Linked DNA regions of Homo sapiens. The protein of the gene in region 1 interacts with the protein of each later gene in a pairwise test. Each region holds a gene or a part of one and is shown on either strand. Other genes may lie near its edges.

Region 1 (8,063 bases):
CTGCTTTAGAGGGGGTGAGGCTGGAGGCCCTTCCTCCTCCCAGCCCAAAGTGGCCACCCAGCCCCTTCTTTTTGGCTGCCTGCACATCCACACGCCTTCTGCACACCTGGACACCTTACACACCCCCTGCACACCCACTGAACACCCACACACAACCCCTGCACACCCACCGAACACCCGCAGACCTTACCCCTTCCACACCCAGCGAACACGCGCACACCTTACACACCCCTTGCCCACCCACCAAACACCCGCACCTTACATACCCCTTGCACACCCACTGAACACCCACACACCTCCTTATACCTCCTGCACACCCACCGAACACCCACAGACCTTACACACCCCTTGCACACCCACCGAACACCCGCACACCTTACCCCTGCACACCCACCGAACACCCGCACACGTCACACACCCCCTGCACACCCACCAAACACCCACACATCTTACCCTCCACACACCCACGCACCTTTTTACATCCTCCACACACCCACCTCATACCTGCACACCTCCTTACACACCCTCTACACACCCACCACACACACCTGCTTACACAGCCTCCGCACCCACTGAACACCCGCACACCTCCTTACACACCCTCCACCCACCCACCACACACCTGCACACCTCTTTATCCTCCACCCACCCTCCACCCACCCGAACACCTCCTTACACACCCTCCACATACCCTCCAAACACCCGCACACCTTGCACACCCTCCACACACCCACCTCTCACCCACACACCTCCTTACACACCCTCCACACCCACCAAATACCTGCACACCTCCTTACACATCCTCCACACACCCACCGAACACCCACTGAACACTGCACCTCCTTACCCTCCACACACCCCCCACAGCCACACACCACCTTACACACTCTCCACACACTCTACCCTCTACACACCCGCCCACCTTACACTCCACACACCCGCCCACCTCCTTACCCTCCACACACCTGCCCACCTCCTTACACACCCTCCACACACCTGCACACCTCCTTACATCTTCCACACACCCACCTCATACCTGCACACCTCCTTACACACCCACCTCACACCCGCATACCTCCGTACACACCCACCTCTCACCCGCACAGCTCCTTACACACCCTCCATGCACACACCTCCTTACACACCCACCTCATACCTGCACACCACCTTACACACCCTCCACACACCCACCAATCACCCACTGAACACTGCACCTCCTTACCCCTCCACACACCCACCACACACCCACACACCTTACCCTCCACACACCCGCACACCTCCTTGTAAACCCACCTTTTGCTGCTGCCCTGCTCTCTGGAAGTCGCTGGTCTGGCCGGGTCAGGTGTGGCTGGGGACAGGCGAGGTGTGCAGGCAGACCCTGCAGGCTTCTCCTCACCAGCTTAGTAACCTGGGGAGGCTGTAGTCTATGCAGAGGCACCTCACCTCTGACGTGAAGGTCACAGCCAGGGTCAGGCAGGTGGTCAGGTCAGGACACTCATCCCACTGAGGTTGGTGGCCCGCTGTGGCCGGGCCCTCTGTGGAGAGGTCCTGCGAACGGACCACGCTGAGGCTTTGGGCATTCGTGCTGCTGTGATGAGGAGTGGGGCGCACTGAGTCCCTGCCGCCTTCTGCCTGTGAACACCAGGCCGGGCTCCTCCTCAGGCCTCTTCAGGCACGGGGGGCGGGCCAGGTAGGTGCGAGGTCAGCCCAGCAGGGGCTTTCCTGTTAGTGGGGCCTGGGGTGTGGAGAGCAGTGCCAAGGGAACCGTCTGCGTGTGGATCTTCCTCAATGCCTCTGGAGTTCTGGGCCAAGTCCCCTGGCCCCGGCCCATTCAGGGAATGTCAGCTCATTCTGGTATCACGCCCTTCCACCCCCGTCCATGGGGACCCCCAGAGACACCCAGTGTCTGGCCACACTGCAGCCCTCACAGCCCTGTCTTCCAGCCTGGGCTAGCCTCCTTTGGGGGCCCTGCCAGTCCCCGGACAGCCCCCCTTCACCCACCAACGCTGCCTTCTGGGGCAAGGGCACTAGTCCATCCCACAGGCCCGGACTGAGTCCTGGGGACACGGGCGGCATGCACGTCCTTGGAAGGGGCTGAGGACGGAGGGCTTAGCAAGGGTATTTTTAGCGTTGGTGCTGACACTCTCTGGGAAATGAAGCCTGGGTTTCTCTGGAAGGAGAAGCCAGCCTTCCCCTACTGTCCCCTACTGTCCTCTCCAAAGCTGGCTGTTCTCCAGACTACCTCATCCAAGCAGGGAAGAGGCCAGGCTGGCTTCACAGTTACAGCTAGTGTCCTTTGTCAGGGACAGTGGTGACCCCAGGCTGGGGGTTAAGGGGCCCAGGCATTGTTAGCCCTGAGAGGGGGACCCGAGGCTTAGGCTGGAGTGGGGTGGCCCTGGGCAGCCCCAAACTGTGCTCCAGCTTCCTGACCAGGCCCTGGCACCCTCTGGACTGGAGGACACCGGCCACCCTGGCTGAGCTCTGCCCTGGAAGGACCTTTCCTGAGCTGGGGGCACACTGCCGTAGCCCTGGGCCCATCCCCACTTGCCAGGTCATTCTCACAGCCAGCCCTGCCTGGGTGGGGGACATACCTCCAGCCTGTGGCATTGACCAGCTTTGCCAATGGGCTACCTGGGAAAGCCCGGATTGGGCCAGGCACCGTTCCCATCTCTCAGGAGTGCTGCTGCTAGCCTAGGCCTACTCTGTGTGTCATGAGGAGACAGACTGTCCCTCCTCTGGCCTGGGGCAGTGGCCTCTCCTCAAGGTTTGCCTCTCTGCCTGCCCCTCCCCAGGGACCCAGGCCCAAGCCCCCAGCCCACAAGTACCACAGGCCTAGGGGGCAGAGGGGACATTGACTGCCTTTCCTTTGGTGCTGGCGTCTGCTGCTGCCTAAGGCAAGGGGGTGGCCGAGGGACCCTTCTGGGCCCAGCCCTCTTGGACTCGCTCTGCCCATGGGTCATAGCTCAGCCTCCCAGGGCAGCTCAGCCTCTTCCCGCAGAGCTAACATCTCCCACCTTCACAGGTCCCTTCCTGCTGTCTGGGACCCTGGAGTGAGCCTGGCCCCTTTCCACGTAGCTGCCTGCATGTGTGGGCAGATGCGGGTCTTCTCCGAGGCTCCTCTTCCGGGCCCGCAGGGCCTCCATTCTCAGGGCGGCCCGCCCCACCCTGGTTTCTCAGGGGCCAGGCTGCACCCGGCTCCGGGGCAGAGGGCAGTGGCACGGTCACCTCTCTCTTCCCCTGCTGGGGACCTGGCTCCGTGCCACCCGAGCGCTGTGCCAGGCCTGAAGTGATTTGAACTGAGGCAAATGCTGGGTGCTGTGGGGGCCAGAGAGGAGGAAGCCGCACTGCGACCTCTTGGGGCTTGAGATCTAACTAGATTCACAGGACAGAAGGCAGGAGAAGCTCCGAATGTCACAAGGGCTGGAGGCCCGGCGACAAGGGGTGCTGAGGAACTCAGGGAAGGTGGAAAGACTTGGAGCCCCAGATCCCTGCTCAGGCCTCTGTCTGCCTCTGGATAGGGGCACCTCCATGTCTAGGCAGCACTGAACTGATGGCCCAGGATAGGGGGGAAGCTAGAGAGGACCCAGCAGCCCTGGGCCACACGCCTGCTGGCAGTTGACTTAGCCGGCCTTCTGCTGCTCCTGAGTCGCGGCCCTCAGCCCTCCCCTTGGTGGACTGGAAAAAGGCCACCTGCACCCTTGGGGTCACTGCATGCTCATCACTGGCCAGCTGGCTGCACTGAGCTGCAGGGGGCCTCTGTGGGTGGACGGGAGAGACGGGCACCCCTGGGCTGTGCTGCCCTTGGCCTGAGCGCCGTTCCCTTGAGGACAGCCCTCTGGCTGAAGCCACTTGGCCCCATGTGCAAATGCATGCCGACCCCACAGGTGCAGCGGGCCTTTGTGCAGTGCCCTGGGTGGGGGTGCACAGGGCAAAGGCTCGGCACCTCCTCACCTGGGGTCCTCTGGGTCCCTACATCCCTCTTGGTTCCCACTCCCACGCCCCTTCCAGCCACAGGCAGCACCATGGCCCTGTCACGGCCCGCCAGGTCCCCATATGGAAGGGAGAGGCCCTTTGTGTGTGTGCGTTTGTGTGTGCACATATGTACGTGTGCATGCCTGTGTGTATTGGGAGGCGCTGGCGTAGGGCCTGGGCATGTGGCTCACACAGGCTTGGGGAGGTGGACATGGAACAGTAGTTAGTTATGTTGCTGGTTTTATGGACGCCTGGGAGGAAGGACATTGTCTGAGCCTCCGTCTGTATCAGGTGGGGCTTGCCATCCCACTCCCAGACCCCCCCGAGTGCCGTGGTGACCCCTCTTGCCCGCCCACAGGGAAGAAGGCCGTGCTGGGTTCCAGTCCTTTCCTGTCCGAGGCCAATGCAGAGCGGATCGTGCGCACGCTCTGCAAGGTGCGTGGTGCGGCACTCAAGCTGGGCCAGATGCTGAGCATCCAGGGTGAGTGGGCGCGGGGGCTGCTGCCCCGGGACTGCGTGGGCTGCTGGGGGGGTCAACTTCCAGGGCCGGGAGCAGTGGCCCCACCAAAGCTCAGTGGGCAAGATGTGAGCAGGCTGGGGAGAGATCTTAGAAGATAATAGGCCTGGTCTCCAGACGGGTGGCTCTGGGTCCAAAGAAACACATGGAATAAAGAGCAGAGAGGAAAAATTGCTCTCTACAGGTGGTCAGAACACAGGTCATTTCAACATTTTACTATGTTTTATTTTCCAAATTTCTTTTGTAATTATGAAAAACTCTGCATGTTGAGTGTAAAAAGCCCACCTTCTCAGGTCACTGGGCGGAGGCTGGGGCTCCCGGGAAGCTGAGTGGCCGAGGGCGTGTGTGCGAGGGCTCCTGTCTTTCTGGCCTCACCCGTGCTCCTGGTGGGGAGGGTGTGGTGGCCAGGGCATCCCAGGAGTGTGCCCGCCCAGGTCCTGGGCGCACACTTTAATCCCCAGGTTCGCCCTGTGTCATTCTCCTGCCTTCCAGATGATGCCTTTATCAACCCCCACCTGGCTAAGATCTTCGAGCGGGTGCGGCAGAGCGCGGACTTCATGCCACTGAAGCAGATGATGGTGAGGAGCCAGGGGCTCTGCCCACTCTCTGTGGCCTCGGCCCCCACTGGGTGGAGGGGACAGACTTGGGGCTTCTCCCGGTGGCCCAGGCAGGGCATGCTCAGAGCCCCTCCCTGGCCCTGCCCTTCAGAAAACTCTCAACAACGACCTGGGCCCCAACTGGCGGGACAAGTTGGAATACTTCGAGGAGCGGCCCTTCGCCGCCGCATCCATTGGGCAGGTGCACTTGGCCCGAATGAAGGGCGGCCGCGAGGTGGCCATGAAGATCCAGGTAGGCGGCCTGATGCGCAGTGCCTGTCCCTATGGGGGCTGCAAGGGGCAGAGCTGGGGCCTGGCTCATGGAGGCCTCTACACCCCACGTCCCGCAGGGCACCCTCTCTCCTGGCAGGGCCATATGTGGTGTCTTCTGGCCCCAGTGCCTGGACGGCACCAGAAGCTTGGGAAGTATTTGCTAAATGAGTGACTTTGGGGGCACAGAGGGGCCCCCAGCAAGCTTGATTTGGGGTGGGCAAGGACAGGGGACAAGTGATTGCTTTTTGGGGCCAGAGCTGGTGGGAGGGTGGCCGTGAGCTGTTCCCAGGGGTGAGGTGAGGCAGGAGTAGGTGGACAACGAGGCTGTGATGGGGTCCAGGTCACGGCAGCATGGCTGGGTCTTAGCTCTGGTTCTCCAGGGTGTGGGCTGGGGCCAGGACACAGCTGGGAAGCCAGTTGGGGGTTGGGGGAGTGCCCCAGGCAGGGCCCACCCGTCTCCCTGGGCTAACTCCCCTGCCTCACCCATACCCCCACAGTACCCTGGCGTGGCCCAGAGCATCAACAGTGATGTCAACAACCTCATGGCCGTGTTGAACATGAGCAACATGCTTCCAGAAGGTCTGAGGCTAGGTGGTTGGGTCAAGGGCAGGAGTGGGTGGCAGGCATCTGTGTTGGGTTCTGGGGACCAGAGGGGGTCCTCCCTGCAGAGCCCCCTTCCTCGCTGATGCCCTCCTCCCTGGCCCAGGCCTGTTCCCCGAGCACCTGATCGACGTGCTGAGGCGGGAGCTGGCCCTGGAGTGTGACTACCAGCGAGAGGCCGCCTGTGCCCGCAAGTTCAGGTGTGGCCCCCGGCCGGGCCCCTTGCGTGTTTGCACCAGGGAGGCAGAAGGGACCATGTTCAGCAGCTGGTGAAGGCCCCTCCAGCTCTGAGGGGCAGAGGGCTGGGGTTGCAGCCTGGGCCGAGGCCATATCCTGCCTGGGGTGAAGGAGGGCCCTCTGCCTGGTTGGGGGGTGTGTGTGGGGGGGGGGACGGTGTGGAGGGCCTGTGGCTAGGGCGTGACCTCCCTCCCCTACCCAGGGACCTGCTGAAGGGCCACCCCTTCTTCTATGTGCCTGAGATTGTGGATGAGCTCTGCAGCCCACATGTGCTGACCACAGAGCTGGTGTCTGGCTTCCCCCTGGACCAGGCCGAAGGGCTCAGCCAGGAGATTCGGAACGAGGTTTGTCTGTGCCAGCAGACAGGTGGGGCCAGGGTGGCCCTGCTGTGTGGCTGTTTGGTGACCTAATAGTGTGAGCTGGGGACTTGGAGCCCTGAGGTGCTCCCTGGGGGTGAGGGGCAGTGAAGTAGCACCAGTGGGACTTAGGGGGACACAGGGGAGCTGCTGCCTTCCCTGGCCCAAGTAACACTGGGAATCAAACAGTCCCTAGGGTAGGGTGGGTAAAACAGGAGGCAGGGGCTTCTCTGGCCCCAGTCTCCCAGGGCACCAGGCAGTGTGGTGCTGCCTGACACAGACCCTTCGCGCTGTCCACAGATCTGCTACAACATCCTGGTTCTGTGCCTGAGGGAGCTGTTCGAGTTCCACTTCATGCAAACAGACCCCAACTGGTCCAACTTCTTCTATGACCCCCAGCAGCACAAGGTGAGCCCCAGGGTGGGGGCACCCGCAGCCAGGCCTGAGAGCTTCTCCGAATGGGGCACGTGAGGCCCTGGACTGCCCCTTGTCCTGGGAAAGTCAGCAGAGAGCTCAGGGCTCTGGGAGTGGGGATCCTCACTGCCCTCTGTTGCACCCCCTTCCCGGCCCCACACACCCGCACCATGGAGCACCAGGGCCAAACTTCTCCTGGTGTCTCTGTCCCCAGGTGGCTCTTTTGGATTTTGGGGCAACGCGGGAATATGACAGATCCTTCACCGACCTCTACATTCAGGTAACTGGAGAGGGGCCCTGGCCTTGGTCCATGTTTTTCTGAGGCTGGGACAGGATGCTGGGGGACTCGGGGTAGGGAGAATGACTGGGTTCCTGCCCTTGTGTCCCCATCTGCGCTGCCTGCCCCTCAGGTCTGGTGACAGCAGGCAGTTAGGCTGACAGCTGCCAGGCGTGGTGTCACAGCACTGGCCGGGGGCCCTGTGCAGGGAGAGGATGAGGGTGGGGTGGGCTCGGGTGTGGCACTTGGCTCCCTGGGATGTCGGGAGCTGAGCTTTTCATGCTGCCCACGGTCCCCTCCTGTGCCTCTCCCCAGATCATCAGGGCTGCTGCCGACAGGGACAGGGAGACTGTGCGGGCGAAATCCATAGAGATGAAGTTCCTCACCGGCTACGAGGTCAAGGTGAGCAGGGTTGCGGGGGATCCCCTGGGCCTGCTGACCCAGGGCCCGGCTCCCTGTGTAAGAATGGATGAAAGCACAGGGGGCAGCTGCCCTCAAGGGGCCCCCAGAGCCCGGGCCTCCTTGGGCACGGTCTGAAAGCTGGGGCCCACCCCGGCCCATGCTGCCCTGCTGAGCGTGAGATTTTCCGAGTGGGCCAGTGAGTTGGGGACTTGTCGTGAAGCTCTTGTTTCTGCCTCTCACTCTTGCCCACTTAGGGCTTGGGGTTGGGCCTCGATTGAGCCAACGTGCAGAGCAAGTGGGAAGGGAAGCCCCAGCCCTCCCCTCATCGAGCCTCCCTGGGGGGAGTTGGAAGAAACCTTAGAAGCCTTTTAAATAAAGGGGAACGGTCTGTGCTGGTGCCGCCTGAAGCCACCCACAAA
Region 2 (7,940 bases), on another chromosome or scaffold:
AGGAGGAGAGAATGGAGGTGCTCTGAGGGATCAGACAGAGGGTGGGGAAAGTCAAGGAAAAGGCTGGGGATGGAAGGAAGCATGCTTGTCATGGGATGGGCACTCCTGGCTTTTGGAGCACTCATAAAAAGGTATTGAGGCTGAGGCTCCTGGGATCTGGCCAGCGAAGATGGAGAGGAGGAAGAGAATGAGAGGCAAGTGGTCCCATCATGGGTGGGGTTGTAGGAAATGCCTGGGATATGATTGAATATTGTAGAGAGGTCAGGCAAGAGAGTGCAAGTGGCCTGGGAAAGAAGGGGCTGGGGAAATATAGAAAAGAAGAGGGAATAGAAAAAATAAAAGAGAAGAAAAAGCAGTAAGGGAGGAGATTTCCTGGACCTTTAAGGAGGGCTCTTCACCAGGAGCCTGGAGGAGGACTTAGGAAGGACTTCTTAGAACTGACATACTTGTGCCTCACCCTCGGGCCCATGTGTATAGATACCTGGTACCTCTCGAATAGAGTCACCCCCTTGCCTGCTGGAAAACAATGCAGCACAGTCCACCCCATAGGATCCCTGGTCCTCAAGGGCCAAGGGAGATGAAGACCTCACCCAGGGCCCCAGCTCCAACTCCTCCCAACCCAGCCTAGCTGGCAAAGCAATGGAGGCTGGGCTGCCCGTCCCACGCACCCGGTACCATACCTGGCCTTGCTGCCATCACCCATGATATGGAGGCTGCAGCTGCATTGAGAGGGGCAGAAGCCCCGGGCCTGGGGGGGCCACGCAAGGGCCAAGAGCCAGAGCATGCCTAATGCCACCCTCATGGCTCCTGGCTCCTCTCTGGCCCAGGCAGGGGCCTGTCCCTGGACCGCTCCGTCCCACCGGCCCAGCAAGCTCAGCAGCTGCCCACTTGCTCGCCAGCCCCTTACACCCCCTCCTGAGGCCATCGGATAAACATGGACAGACTGGGGATTAGGGAGGGGAGTCCCAGCCGCAGCACTCAGAGGCTTATTGCTTTCTGAATCACTCAGTCCTGAGGGTAGGGGCGGGGGACCCCCTTCCATAGCAATATCCACAGGCCCAGAGAGGCCAGGGCAGGGCACAGCAAAGCAAGACAAGTAGGCAGCTTTCCAGAGGCGAGCAGCCATGGGACTGTCATCTGCAAAGCATCCCATCCCAACAAGGCCACGGACAACACAGACCCCACTGGAGTGCCAGGGAAGATGGAGAAAGAACCCCCGCCTCAGTAAGGGCCTTTGGAAATTCTTTCCTGTGACACTGTCTCATAGCAAAAAAGCAGTGAAATGAAGCAACTCTTCCTGATGGTGCTAAAGGCATTGGAAGGAGGCTAAGCTCTGGACCCAGGCTTCCTGGGGTCAAATCCCAGCTGCTCCATTAAGGGGCTGTGACCTTGGGTGAGTCACATTATCTCTTGGCCTCTGTGTCCTTATCTGACAAAGAGAAATAAAGTTACTTCATGCAGGGTGTTTGTGAAAATCAAACTCAAATTCCAAGGCCTTGACAGCCTGTGGGAACAGAAGCTCTCTCACAAGTTGTAAGTGCCCAGTTTCACTGGTACTTATAAGACCCTACTTACAGAAGAACTGGACAGATTCAGATATTTTGGGGAGACATCAGAGGTGTCTCTCATGAGCCCACAAACTGTCCCAGGCTGCCAGGCAAACAGCTGCCTGCCTTGAGTGCCCCATGGATATGGACTCAACACACTACTATTTCAGCTGAGCCCTTCTGGGCATTGCTACGAATGCCAAAGGTGGAGATGTCTCCACATAAGGGACAAGGGCACCCCTCTCCTCAAGGTGCCCTACTCCAAGGAGGGCCCCAGAGAGGTAGCTCAGAGAGGTCTTAGAGAAGGCACTTTCAGGTTTTTTTGGAGACAGGACCCCAACCTCTAATAAGGGCCTTTGGAAATTCTCCATCCATAAAGCTTTGTTTTGCTTTATAGGGACAGGGTTGCTCTGTCACTCAGAGTGGAGTGCAATGGTGTAATCATAGCTCACTGTAGCCCCGAACTCCTGAGCTCAAGCCATCCTCCTGCCTCAGCCTCGCAAGTAGCTGGAACTGCAGGCAACCACCACCATGTTTGGCTATTTTTAAAAAATTATTTTTTGCAGTCAGGGTCTTGCCATGTTGCCCAGGATGGTCTCAAACTCCTGGCCTCAAGCGATCCTCCTACCTCAGTCTCCCAAAGTGCTGGGATTACAGGCCTGAGCCACTGCACCCAGACTAATTTCAATTTTTACTTATTCTCTCCTAACCCTATCTCGCCCCACCATATCTACTCAAGATGCCAGTGGGGACTGACCAGGGATGATTCCCAGCAGTAGACACTCAGTCGACTCATTCATTCATTCTTCACATTTGACCCTGAGGCATTGTTCTCTGGTCCAGCATGCCCTACCTATGTTGTTTGGCTTTTCTAGAAGGTTCCCCAGTCCTTCATGCCTGTGGCTCCAGGCAGGCCTAGACCAGTGAGGTATGACCTGCAAAGATATCTGGGGCCCCAGTGCACACATAAAATGCCTAGCTCGGAGCCAGGTCTGTTTCAACAATACTGGCTTCTCATTCTTTCCTTCCTTCCAATGCAGCCAGTAGGATTTTCTCAGTGCTTCCCAGCTATACTTCCACCTCCCCAAACCCAGCCGTCAGCTTGCCTGTTCCCACATCTCTGCTTCTTCCTCCTTGTGTCTTTTGCCCAAATGAACTTTACCCTTTAATCTTGGCCTTGCCCTGCTTTATCTCCTCTCATGAAGGCTTTTGTGATCTCGAAGGCATGAAAAAAGGACTGACATATGTATTAACCAACACCATAAGGTAGAAATTGAGACAGAAGGCCAGGCAGGGTGGCTCATGACTGTTATCCCAGCATTTTGGGAGTCCAAGGCCAGCAGATCACCTGAGGTCGGGAGTTCAAGACCAGCCTGACCAACATGGAGAAACCCTGTCTCTAATAAAAATACAAAATTAGCCGAGCATGGTGGCACATGCCTGTAATCCCAGCTACTCGGGAGGCTGAGGCAGGAGAATAGCTTGAACTGGGGAGGTAGAGGTTGCGTGAGCCGAGATTGCGCCATTGCACTCCAGCCTGGGCGACAGAGCGAGACTCCATCTCAAAAACAAACAAAAAAACAAAAAAGAAATTGAGAAAGAACAGGGAACGCTCTGGAGGGCGCAGCCATAAGCTCAGCCCTGCAGAGGGATTAGGCTTGGATGTAAGTGAGGACTCATGAGAGGAAAGGCCTGGGAAGTGGGCATTCCTGGAACAGAGTGGGTTGCTCTACCAGGTGAGTCAGAAGATGCCATTGAAAAATGCCTGAGCCTGAGGAATAGGAGATCGGCTTTTGTTCCAGCTCCATCCATAAATTACTGCATGGCCTCAGGCAGATTCTTAACTGTTTTTAGCCACAGTTTCCTCATCTAAAATGGAAAGGATAATGGTATCTAACTCATGGAGTTGTTGTAGGACTCATCAGAAGATCCCCTAGCACAGGGCCTGACCTCACTCAATATTAGCTATGTTGCTGATAGTGCTCTGGAGCTTGGTTTCTTTATCTGAAAATGAACTAAGTTGTCCTAGATCAGTATTTCCTGGTGTAAATTTTATCATGAGCCAGAGCATAACAGTGCATAAAGAGCCAGTGTATCAAGAAGTCATTTGTAGCAGCCAAAGCTCTTAGTGGGGCCGGCAAGGCTGGGCGGGTTCGGGGTCGGAGACTGACAAGACGGCAGGCAGCCCCTCTGTTCTAAGACAGTGTCCTAGGACATTTTTTATGCTCAGGTGCTCTATGGGAGACAGGAAATGCAGCCCTGAGGTTTATATTCGTGATATCTAACCAGGACTTATATAAAGGCCACAGACAAAAGACATTGACATTGCAGAAAAGTAAACGGAAGAGTCCAGTGGTCCCACTCCAAGGCGCATAACTAGTTAGTGGCAGATTCAGAACCAGAACCCCAACCCCATTTTCTGGTCCCAGATGGGGTTCTTCCTCTGACAGCAGGCGACTTCCCAAGCCTCATCCTTTCCCCAGCGCTTTGGAGTATACTCATGTGAGCCTGAGGACACACACACAGGCACCAGGCTTGTTGGGAACAGCTGCGGCTCAAATCCCTCCTCCTGCTCCCCTCCCCTGGTTATGCAACTCTTTTCCAATTAGGCTCTCAGCCACACACCATTTGGATTCCCCGACCTTAATCCTGTGCAATGGGGCTGAAATGAATGAGACAGGGCTCCATTCTGGCTTCACAAAGGCTGCATTGTCCAACTCGTGAATGGGTTCCTTCTGCTTGGGCCAAGAGGACCATTTGCAGCGGGGAGGCATCCAGAAACAGCCCAAGGTCCAACATAATAACCTGCATGTGCCTCCACGCACATGGGATGGCCCTTTAAAAGGGAGGGCCTGGCTGTGGGAAGCCAGAGACAGCTGGGCCACTGGCAGTGAGGGAGAGTGAGGATGGCAGAGACCAGTGCCCTGCCCACTGGCTTCGGGGAGCTCGAGGTGCTGGCTGTGGGGATGGTGCTACTGGTGGAAGGTGAGCCAGGCAGAACCTGGGGTGCAGCGGGGGCCCAGTGGGTTCTGAGGACCCAGGCCACCAGTGTGGAGCTGGCAAGGAGAGGAGAGGTCCCCAAACCCAGCTGGGTGTCCGGTCCCATTGGCTGCCTTCCCCTCTGTGCCCGGACTCGGGGGGTGTTCTGACAATTGAACCTGTGAGGTGCAGCACACTGCCCGCTGGGAGCAGAGAGGAAGCCAGGCAAGGGTCAGGGAGGGAGGGACTTTGAAAGGGGACATCTGCCCAGGAGATGATCAAGAGCCAGGCTTTAGGACTTTTCATGTCCCTCCAGCCGGGAGAAAATTTAATCCACTCCTTGGAAATCCTGCTGAGAATCCCACATAAGATCAGTCCCCCAAAAGGCTCTGGGGACAGACAGCTCTGCCTCCTGCTCTTGTGTGGCTGGAACCAAGTCCCTTCAGCTCTCTGCCCTCAATGCCTTGACATTCCGAATGGGTGGTTGTAAAGATTAAATGGGATAATGGGTATAAAGTGCTAGCCTAAATAGACTCTAGGGTATTTAAGTTCATTCACTCCCATCCTCTCCAGCCCCACCACTATTTTCACTGTGTCTACTCCTATGAGCCCAAGCACTTCACCTCTGGAGGCAACCTGGGTCTGCGAGGTACCTACCTCAACCTAGAATCCCTAAGATGCTCGCTGAGGCCAGAGCTAGAGACAGTGTCAATCCTGAATCTGGGCCAGCCCAAGCTAAATTGATGGAGAACGCAGCTTTGGTTCAAAGCAGACCCAGAGAAATCATCAGCACGTTTTCTCACCTAATGAGAACTGACAATGGAGAGGAAGTGACAGTCATTAGATTGGTCCTGAAGGCTCTGGACACGACTGTCTGGTGGCCCCAGCCCGTGTCTCCCTTTCCTGAGAACCCTACAATCTAGCATCCTTCCAGGTCCTCAAACATGCCATAAAATTTTACCACTTTATTTTTTGGAAGGGGTTTAAATTTACATTTTTATTTCATGTTTAATGACTAGAAATGTCATTATATACACAATGCTTTGGTTTTTATTTTATTTAAAATATGTTTTAAATTTCAATAGCTTTGGGGATACAAGTGATTTTTGTTTACATAGATGAATTACATCGTGGCAAATGCTAGGACTTTAGTGCACTCATCACCCAAGTAGCGTACATTGTGCCTCATTTGTAGGTTTTTTTAATCCCACTCCCTCTCCCACCCTTCCCCTTCTGAGTCTCCAGAGTCCATTGTGTCCTCTGAATGCCTTTGCGTACTCACGGTTTAGCTCCCACTTGTAACTGAGAACAAACAGCATTTGGTTTTCCATTCCTGAGTTACTTCACTTACAATAATGGCCTCCAGCTCCATCCAAATTGCTGTAATAAGACATTATTTCATTCCTTTTTACAGCTATTATTCCATGATGTATATATACTACATTTTCTTTATCCATTCATTGGTCAGTGGGCACTTACATTGATTTCGTATCTTTGCAATTGTGAATTGTGCCTCGGTAAGCATAGATGTGCATGTGTGTTTTTGGCTGGATTAAATGGCAGATCTACTTTTAGTTATTTAAGGAATCTCTATACTGTTTTCCATAGAGGTTGTATTAATTTACATATTCCCACCAGCAGTGCATAAGCATTCCCTTTTTACCACATCCATGGCATTGATCTATTGTTTTTTGACTTTTTAATGATGGTCATTCTTATAGGAGTAAGGTGGTATCTCATTGTACCATAGCATGTCTTTGCACATGCTATTCCCTCCTGGAATGCTCTTCCATGCACTGTCCTGCAGGTAAGTGCTTCTCATAGTTTTGAAGGCAGGATTTTTTCCTGTTCCTCACTTTAGATAGGGGAAGCTGAGGTTCAGAGAGCTTAAGGAGCAGCAAGCGAGGCAACCAAGCCAAAATTCAAGGTCGGGTCTCTCTGTTGCCAGAGTACGCCCCCTTCATGTTCACTTCCATGCCTGGCGTCCTGGGCAGCTCCCAGCTCTAACATCGACTCTTCTCCTTGGAGCCTCTCTGACTTTGCTCTACAGTCCTTGGAGAAGGCATTTTGAAATCCAAAAGGCCTGAATTCAAGTTCCAGCTCCACCGCTTACTAGCTGTGTACTTAGGGCAAGTTAGCTAGTGTCTCTGAGCCTCAGTTTCCCAGCTATAAATGGAGAAGAGAGTATCCAAGTAAAGATTGAATGAGATGACTCATATAAAGTGCTTATCCTGGTGCCTGGTGTGTGCTAAGTGCCTGGCAGCTGTCAGTGATTATGACTGTTATAGCATGAAGCATGCTACCCTATATTGATTGTCTTCCTTGTCTGTCCAGGAGGTTGCTGATGTTCCATCCACCCCACACACACTGTTCTGACCCCAGCTGGGCCTCAGCAGCCCCAATGCCAGCCCCCACCCTTCCTTTCAGCTCTCTCCGGTCTCAGCCTCAATACCCTGACCATCTTCTCTTTCTGCAAGACCCCGGAGCTGCGGACTCCCTGCCACCTACTGGTGCTGAGCTTGGCTCTTGCGGACAGTGGGATCAGCCTGAATGCCCTCGTTGCAGCCACATCCAGCCTTCTCCGGTACCAGCCCCCTCCCCAGTCCACAGGCTCTGGGGTCCTGCCTGGGGCCTGACCCCTGGGCCCTGGGCAGCCAGGCCAAGGGCATTTTTACTACTTACAGAAAATTGGCCAAGGGCAGAGGGTGGGCAGGCTAAAATGGGCTGAATTCCAGATTGATTCTGAAGAACGACAGCTGATTTCTGGAAGACAGGGGTTGCTGAAACCTGATGAAAGAGATGGTAGGCTGTAGAGATCAATGGTGTGGGTTCTGTAACCAAGCAACCTAGGTTTGCATTCTGGCTTCAGCATTTCTAGTTCTGGGCTTCTTCCATAAATCGGATATTATTTCCTAACTCATATAGGTGGTTGGAAGTATTTACTTCTATTATGTGTAAATAACTTAAAATAATGCTTGATACCTAGGACTCTACGTAAGTGTTTGTGAACACAAATGGGGGCGTTATCACCACTACTGCACCCGTATGTATCTGGGCTCCTGGAGTGGAGGGACACCGATGCAGTGTGGAGAGGATAAGAGGCAGGGAGGGGCAGTCATAACTAGCTAGTGTCTAATACCTCCTTATACAAAAACCAGGGTCTTCCATCACAGCTTCAGAAGGTGTTTATAAAATTGTTTTCTGAAGCAGACTGGACATTCTCATTCTGGTTTTGGACACTACAGACGGAGGCTGGAGCCCCCCCGGATGTGCATGCTCAGTGCTGACCAGCCTGGGGGGTCTGCATCAGTGAGAACTCTTCCTCCCACAGAGAATTGAAGTTTCCACCTTTGCTTGCCCTTTTAGGCTGGGGAGGCCTGGGATCTCCCCTCTGACTTTGCCTTCATCTTCTGT
Region 3 (8,063 bases), on another chromosome or scaffold:
GGGAAATCGAGGCTGCCCCAATCATGCCACTGCACTCTAGCCTGGGTGACAGAGTGAGACCTTGTCTCCAAAAAAAAAAAAAATTAAATCCTATATTATAAAAGATATGAAATATGAAATATTTAAGTGCTTAAGGGACTCAGAGTTTAAGCAGTAAGTCGAGGTTTTAAAGAAATGTTAAGTCTGGGCTGGGTGCGGTGGCTCACGCCTGTAATCCCAGCACTTTGGGAGGCCGAGGCGGGCAGATCACGAGGTCAGGAGATCAAGACCATCCTGGCTAACACGGTGAAACTCCGTCTTTACTAAAACTACAAAAAATTAGCCGGGCTTGGTGGCGCGTGCCTGTAGTCCCAGCTACTCAGGAGGCTGAGGCAGGAGAATGGTGTGAACCCAGGAGGCGGAGCTTGCAGTGAGCCGAGATCGCGCCTCTGCACTCCAGCCTGGGTGACAGAGAGAGACTCCGTCTCAAAAAAAAAAAAAAAAAAATGTTAAGTCTGATCTCATTCACTTGTTTGTATAAAGACAAATACCAAACATGGCAGACCACATGCTAAAAAAAATCTTTCTCAGGAACAATTTGGGCTGTGAATGGATCACATAAGGCAAAAACCAGCCAAGTTAGGAGTTCATGACTGCCTTGGCAGGCTCCTCTGGCTGCTCGTGTTTCATTACCACCATCCTATAATTATGCCTCAACCACTGTCCTTTATGCACACTGGCCATGCCCATCACTGCCATCTCTCCTGGGCCACATGACGATACTGGCCATGAACATGAGATGCGACAGGCTGAAGGTTAGTGCTCATATTGTTGTGCCTTATCTTTACTTTTTTCATTAGTTGCAGAGGTTCTTTCCATTATAATCCAACTGTAAAAATCACATCTATTTTAAGTTTTTCCAGAAACCTACAGAAAATAAGATACATGTCATAATTCTATTTCTAAATTTAAAAAAGGCAGTGTCCTGTCTGGCCATTATAGGAAATCTGAAATTATTATAAGAAATAAGAATTCTGGCCATTATTAGAAATCAATATCCTGTCTGGCCAAATAAGAAATCTGAACTCTGTGATTCCAAGCTGACACTTTTGTGGGATTTTTTTTCTTTTTTTTTTTTGAGACAGAATCTTGTTCTGTCGCCCAGGCTGGAGGGCAGTGGAGCAATCTCGGCTCACTGCAAACTCCACCTCCCGGGTTCAAGCGATTCTCCTGCCTCAGCTTCCCAAGTAGCTGGAACTACTGGTGTGCACCACCACGCCCAGCTAAGTTTTGTGTTTTTTAGTAGAGACGGGGTTTCGCTATATGTTGGCCAGGCTGGTCTCGAACTCCTGACCTCAGGTGATCTGTCCACCTTGTGCCCGAAAAGTGCTGGGATTACAGGCGTGAGCCACCACGCCTGGCTGAGACTTTTTTTAAGCCACAGAAATCACACAATTCAAAATTGCTATTTGACCCAATACAAGAAATATAAATTAGTTAACAATAAAAAGCACTTGTTAATCTTGCCCAAGGCTGTCAGGACATCTCTGGAATGATATCTGGACCAATGTTGCATTTATAATATGATTTTCATCTTTTCCTCAAGAAACATGAGTTAAGAAAACTGCAGTAGCAAGACTAAGGTAGACGTACACCGCTTAGTTTAAAAGTGTTCATTTCAGCCAATCAATTGGTTATTTGTGGACAATTCTTGAAAACTAGTATAATATATATTATATATACATATATAATATTTATTACATATATTATATATGTATATATAATATATATAATTTTTTTAACTGATAGATTACTGTGGAGTCAGAGATATAGCTTAAAGTTCTACTTTTTGCTGAAGAATAAGAGTTGGAAGTCAACCTCTGATCCAGCCATAATATTGTGCCAGTCTTTAGGATTTTGGTTTAAACAGCTGCATTGTATACTTCAGAGGATTTTTTTTTTAATTTCTCCATTAATCTTAGCATTTGGCACAATTTACTAAAACAGAACATGTGTGTATCCCTGACCCAGTAATTTCACTCCTAGGTATATATATACCCAACAGAAACACCTACTAGAATGTTCACAGCAGCACTGTCCATGAAAGCCCCAAACCGGAAACTATCCAAATACCATTAGCAACATAACTGACACATTTGGTACATACATACAATGGGATGCTATATAGCAATGAAAAAAATAAGCAAATTAGATACAACAGTAAGAGAAATCTCGCAAATATAACCTTGAGCACAAGAAGCCCCTGGTGAGAGAATATCCACTACATGATTCCATTTGTAAAAATTCAAAAATAGGCAAAGCTGATTGATCTGTGTATAAGCAGTCAGGATATGGAGGAAGAATACTAAGTAACTAGAGACTCTCCTTGAGTACTGATAATTCTGTTTCTTTCTTTTTTTCCCTTTTTTAAATAATAAGATTTTGAATCAGGCAGGCTTCTGAGCCATAGTAGGCTCAGAGACTCCAATTTTCTGTTTCTTAATTTGGTGCAGATTACATGGGTATGTCTCATCAAGCTATACACTTATGGTTTGTACACTTCTCAGTTTATCTGTTATACTTTACTAGTTTTTTTTAAAATGCACCCTCAGCCACTGTACCCCCCAAAAGTGACTGTTTCATGTATGTGTATTGCCACTTGACAATACGGCAAACTTAAAACAATTTAAGTAACTTCATTAAGGTTGAAAGTGTTTCACGTATGCTGGAAACAAGAGCAAAAAGATATTAAATGAAAAAATTGGGGGTTGTTTTTGAATTTTATAACAGAACAAACATATCAATCTACAAGGTCAGAAATCCGAAGTAAAAAATTAGAAAGGAGGCGGCTTCTGTATCAATAGTGGATCTTGCTCTGCAGAAGGACAAAGGGAGGGACAGGACCAGACAAAAGAAGGGAGAATAAAGACCCAAGGCGTGAGAATTTCGAGTCAGCCCATGGCGGATTTGAAATCAACAAAGGGGCAGCTTAGAAATGGACACTGGAGTGACACAAAGATGGTGTGATTGAGTACCGGGCACTACTAACATGTGGGAGACACACATTCACAGGGAGTCCAGGCAGCAACAGACCTCAACCCCTTTGCCAAACCAATGAAAGTGGACAGATGTTAGGTAGTAGGGAGTGACACGTGCACAATTCAGAATGCAGAAGTTCTCCTTTCTTTCCAAAAGAATCTAGTCATTCACAAAAACTCAATCTTACTTGGGCCAGATGATTTTTTTTTTGAGATGGAGTCTGGCTCTGTCACCCAGGCTGGAGTGCAGTGCCGCGATCTGGGCTCACTGCAGCCTCTGCCTCCTGGGTTCAAGCGATTCTTCTACCTCAGCCTCCTGAGTAGCTGGGACTACAGGCACCTGCCACCACGCCCAGCTAAATTTTTGTATTTTTAGTAGAGACGGGGTTTCACCATATTGACCAGGCTGGTCTCGAACTCCTGACTTTATGACCCACCCGCCTCAGGCTCCCAAAGTGCTGGGATTTCAGGCATGAGCCACCGCGCCCAGCATGGGCCAGATGATTTCTAATTTAAAAGGGAGGCCAGGCGCAGTGGCTCACGCCTGTGATCCCAGCACTTTGGGAAGCTGAGGCGGGCGGATCACCTGAGGCCAAGAGTTCCAGACCAGCCTGGCCAACATGGTGAAACCCCGTCTCTACTAAAAATACAAAAATTAGCTGGGTGTGGTGGTGCATGCCTGTAATTCCAGCTACTCGGGAAGCTGAGGCAGGAGAATTGCTTGAACCGGGAGGCAGAGGTTGCAGTGAGCAGAGATCGCACCACTGAACTCCAGCATGGGCGACAGAGTAAGACTCCATCTCAAAAAGAAAGGAAAAGAAAAAGAAAAAGAAAAAGAAAAAAAATTTAAATGGGGAGCCAGAGGTCTCAGTAGCTGGAAAATCCTGTAAAATATCACCTAAAACCATTCAGTCATTCTTTCAATATTATCTGTTGAATGGTTACTCTGAGCAATATTCTGGGCTAGAAGCCACCTGGACGAGAAAAGAGGTCCAAATTCTATTTTAAACAAGGTAAGGTGCAGCATTTTGTAATGGGATAGCCTATTGCTAAATTATTTAGTTAACTGTGAATCTCACACCCAACTCATAAGGTTCTCAGCTTGAGGTACTGTTTAAAGGCATGGATCCTTTTATGGTTAGGGTTTCTTTCTTTTTTTGTTGTTGTGGTTTTTTGTTTTTTTGAAACAGTCTTACTCTGTCACCCAGGCTACAGTGCAATGGTGTGATCTTGGCTCACTGCAACCTCCACCTTCCCAGTTCAAGTGATTCTTGTGCTTCAGCCTCCTGAGTAGCTGGGGCTACAGGTATATGCCACCATGCCTGGCTAATTTTTGTATTTTTAGTAGAGACAGGGTTTCGCCATATTGACCAGGCTGGTCTCGAACTCCTGACCTCAAGTGATCTTCCTGCCTCGACCTCCCAAAATGCTGGGATTACAGGTGTGAGCTACTGTGCCTGGCCTAGTTAGTTCTTTGTGTCAACTTTGCTAGGCTATAGTACCATTATCCAATAAAAGATTCATCTAAATGTTGCTGTGAAGGTATTTTGTAGATGTGGTTAACATCTATAATCAGTTGACTTTATTTTTTTTTTAATTTTTGAGAGAGTCTTGCTCTGTTGCTCAGGCTGAAGTGCAGTGGTGTAATCACAGCTCACTGCAGCCTTGACCTCCAAGGCCCAAGCAATCCTCTGACATCACCCTCTCAAGTAGCTGGGACCACAGGCATGTGCCACCCCACCTGGCTAATTTTTTTTAACTTTTGTAGAGATGGAGTTTCCCTATGTTTCCCAGGCTGGGTGGTTGACTTTAAGGAAAGGAGATTTTTCCTTGATAATGTGGGTGGGCCTCATATGATTAGTTAAAAGGCCTTAAGAGAAAAACTGAGTTTTCCCTGAGAAAGAAGAAATTCTAAGTAAAGAGTGCACCATGAGCTCCTGCCTAGTTTCCGGTCTGCCAGCCTTCCCTACAGATATGGGACTTGCCAGCCTCTCCAATTGCATAAACCAATCCTATTGGTTTTGTTTTTCTGGAGAACTGATTTTCTGTTTTTCTGGAGAACTCCAGTTATCCTGGAGAACTGATACAGATGGTAATCAAACCCCTTGAGTTCAAGGCCTGGCTCTGCCATGTCCCCATCTGGGTGTCCTTTTTACTTTTGTTGCCTCATTTGTAAAATGAGGATAATAACAGTAACCTAATGCATAGTAATCAGAACCACCCCTGGCACAGAGTGCTTTGAAAGTGTTTGTGAAATAAATAACTGTGGTTCCAAGTTGCACAAAATTCTGTATTTCTTAGCTGGAAAACCTGAGTTTTCTTTATTCCCAATAATTTGCCATCAACCAAACATGATGACTCTTCCCCACACCAAGAATTACATAGCCTTGGGACAACAGCTCCTCACCAGCCACGCCAGCCTAACCCCACTCAAAGGAATGATGCAGCAAAGCTGAGGTCACAGCACTTCTGGAACACTCTTAATTCTCCAAGTTCTCAGCTGCTAAAAACAGCTGAGCTTAAAGAGGCTGCCAGGAAACAGACTCCACAGAGAGCTATTCCTACTATTTGCAAGGGTGGGAGTTTTAGAAAGGAGTCCTAATCATTCCTTGTGTTCCCACTGTTAATCCCTACAGCAACTTGCCATGGCCCCTTGGGATGAAAGATTAAATGGGGAATCAAAGTGTTGTTTTTGTGGACACACATTTTAGAGGGAGAATATGATGCTGCTGCTGATGGTGATGATAACTTTTACTGAGCACTTACAAGATGCCAGATGCTGCTCTCAGTGCTAACCATTAACACATGTAAGCCTCAGAACAACCCCAGATGTAGATACTGTTAAGTTGGTGCAGAAGTCACGGCAGTTTTTGTCATTAAAAGTAATGGCAAAAACAGCAATTACTTCTGCACCAACCTAATACAACCATCCTCATTGCACAGATAAACAGAAAGTGGCCAAGGTGAAATCTGAACCCAGGCTTTCTGGCTCTCCCTCCTGTACACGCTACCGCTGAGCCTGGATTGTGACGAGGGAGGAGGGAGGCGAGGGAACAAGTACAGAACAGGGCTGTGATTGATGGGAGTGCTTGGCAAGCTCGGGTTCAATCAATGGTTAAATCAGCTTATTTTAAATGAAACAAGTTTCAAAGACTGAAGTAGAACAAATCATACACCATGTTCCTCCCTGAATTTCTTTTGTTCAAGTGTATAATTTGTGCCCACTTTTATACATAAATACCAAAGCTCACAAAAGATTCATGTTATGGTATTTCAACCTTTCATCTTCACATAAAAAAAAGCAAGGCAAAGCGATTTTGAAATTATTTCTCATTTATGCACCAGCAGTGCAATGAAATCAAACACCTGCTTATTGGAAAAATGATAAAACACATTTATTCTTATTTGCTCCCATATTACACCAAGTTTTCCCTACAGGACTTCATGTTGACAAAGATATCTTGTTCTACAGGATTCCTGTGAATTAAGTCTTAGAAGACTTTTCTGGAATATGTTTTTATACCTCAGAAAACAAAAAAGATACACAAGATCAGATTCTATCAGAAACTGGTAAATTTTCACACCAGGAAGATAGACTGGGTCTCAGATACTCTTGTCCAACTTCTCTGGCTCTCAATATTTTTCTATGCCCCAAGAAAATGATCTGAACACACAATTCACATTTTTTTTTTTGAGATAGAGTCTCACTCTGTTGCCCAGGCTGGAGTGCAGTGGCACGATCTCAGCTCACTGCAACCTCGGCCTCCCAGGTTCAAGTGATTCTCCACCTCAGCCTCCTCCCAAGTAGCTGGGACTACAGGTGTGCGCCACCACGTCAGGCTAATTTTTTTGTATTTTTAGTAGAGATGGAGTTTCACCATGTTGGCCAGGCTGGTCTCGAACTCCTGACCTCAAGTGATCCTCCTGTCTCAGCCTCCCAAAGTGTTGGGATTACAGGCGTGATCCACTGTGCCTGGCCACAATTTACTTTTACCCCAGAGACCTGCCTATAGTCATGCTGTCCTTTGGCTTATAGTCCCGTGGAGCTAATGCAGGATCATACAGAATCCTGGGTCAGAGAAGCTATTAAGGGGAAATTCTCAGATAGCTATGGCAGGAGAAGAGACGTGGAAGTGCCACAAATGAAGTTTACGCCAAGTCCTGAGACCTGATTTTGGCCAACTGTGTAAACTTGCCTTGCTGTGGAACTCTTTCCAGAGATAGAAGCATTAAGAATAATGCAACAACCCTGCTAATGTTTGCACCTAGAGAGGTTACGCTGACAACAGCCAGGCCTTCACGTCAGGCTGGTCATACCGGCATTCCTTGTCTATGGATTCCCTGCCATGAGGAACAGACTGCAATGGATGTTCACAGAGTGCTTTAAGAAGATTACATCCTTTTAAAAATCCATAAAATTATTACAAAAAAGAAGCCAACAAAACACTCCTTCCTGAAATTGTTCCCTTTGGGTAATAATATGAAAACATGTTTCCCATTGGAGCTCTCTTACAAGAAAAAACCTTCACTGTCAGATTTCTAGGTTTCTAATATTGAGATTCCTAGTATTTATGTACTCTGAATCCATGTTTGTGTGTATGCATAAATACACACATGCATATATAATTTAGTAAAATATAGTATGTGTATATATATATGTGTGTATATACATATTAATATATACATATATATAATTCAGTTAAAATATAGTTAAAAACAACCAATGAGCAATGTTCCAGCTAGTCCTTCCAGATCAGTTTTGTAAATTCTGTGAGGCACCTCCTCAAAACACCATCCTTTAAAACCAGCAAGACATAGCCTACTGCTGACTCCCTATGGCCAGAAAGGACACTCAGACAAGAGGCCTTCACTTTGACAGCTATCATCTGTCCTGGGCAAAAGCCAACAGCCACAGCACAGTCCTTCACCTTACACACTAATCTTGTTAAGAAAGCAAATCCTGAGATTTCAAGGCTGGGTTAAGAGAACCAACAGGTTCTCAGTTAACTTAGTGGCAAATGTAAGTGGCATCAATGAGTTCTACAA

The links. The genes of interacting proteins can lie anywhere in the genome.
Region 2: the proteins of COQ8A (region 1) and RGR interact in binary tests that used the Homo sapiens proteins (3 or more experiments, as listed by UniProt).
Region 3: the proteins of COQ8A (region 1) and DPYSL5 interact in binary tests that used the Homo sapiens proteins (3 or more experiments, as listed by UniProt).

What each region holds. Positions count from the first base shown.
Region 1 is NC_000001.11:226,977,697-226,985,759, forward strand, and holds part of COQ8A (atypical kinase COQ8A, mitochondrial), read left to right. Parts: intron 1-4,330; coding exon 4,331-4,453; intron 4,454-4,981; coding exon 4,982-5,067; intron 5,068-5,197; coding exon 5,198-5,338; intron 5,339-5,855; coding exon 5,856-5,937; intron 5,938-6,064; coding exon 6,065-6,158; intron 6,159-6,397; coding exon 6,398-6,539; intron 6,540-6,851; coding exon 6,852-6,959; intron 6,960-7,179; coding exon 7,180-7,245; intron 7,246-7,557; coding exon 7,558-7,644; intron 7,645-8,063. UniProt on the Homo sapiens protein: Atypical kinase involved in the biosynthesis of coenzyme Q, also named ubiquinone, an essential lipid-soluble electron transporter for aerobic cellular respiration.
Region 2 is NC_000010.11:84,240,638-84,248,577, forward strand, and holds the start of RGR (RPE-retinal G protein-coupled receptor), read left to right. Parts: upstream 1-4,415; 5' UTR 4,416-4,453; coding exon 4,454-4,532; intron 4,533-6,953; coding exon 6,954-7,110; intron 7,111-7,940. Other genes in the region: LRIT1 (leucine-rich repeat, immunoglobulin-like domain and transmembrane domain-containing protein 1 precursor), read right to left, coding at 681-802. UniProt on the Homo sapiens protein: Receptor for all-trans- and 11-cis-retinal. Binds preferentially to the former and may catalyze the isomerization of the chromophore by a retinochrome-like mechanism.
Region 3 is NC_000002.12:26,850,594-26,858,656, reverse strand, and holds part of DPYSL5 (dihydropyrimidinase-related protein 5), read right to left. Parts: intron 1-8,063. UniProt on the Homo sapiens protein: Involved in the negative regulation of dendrite outgrowth.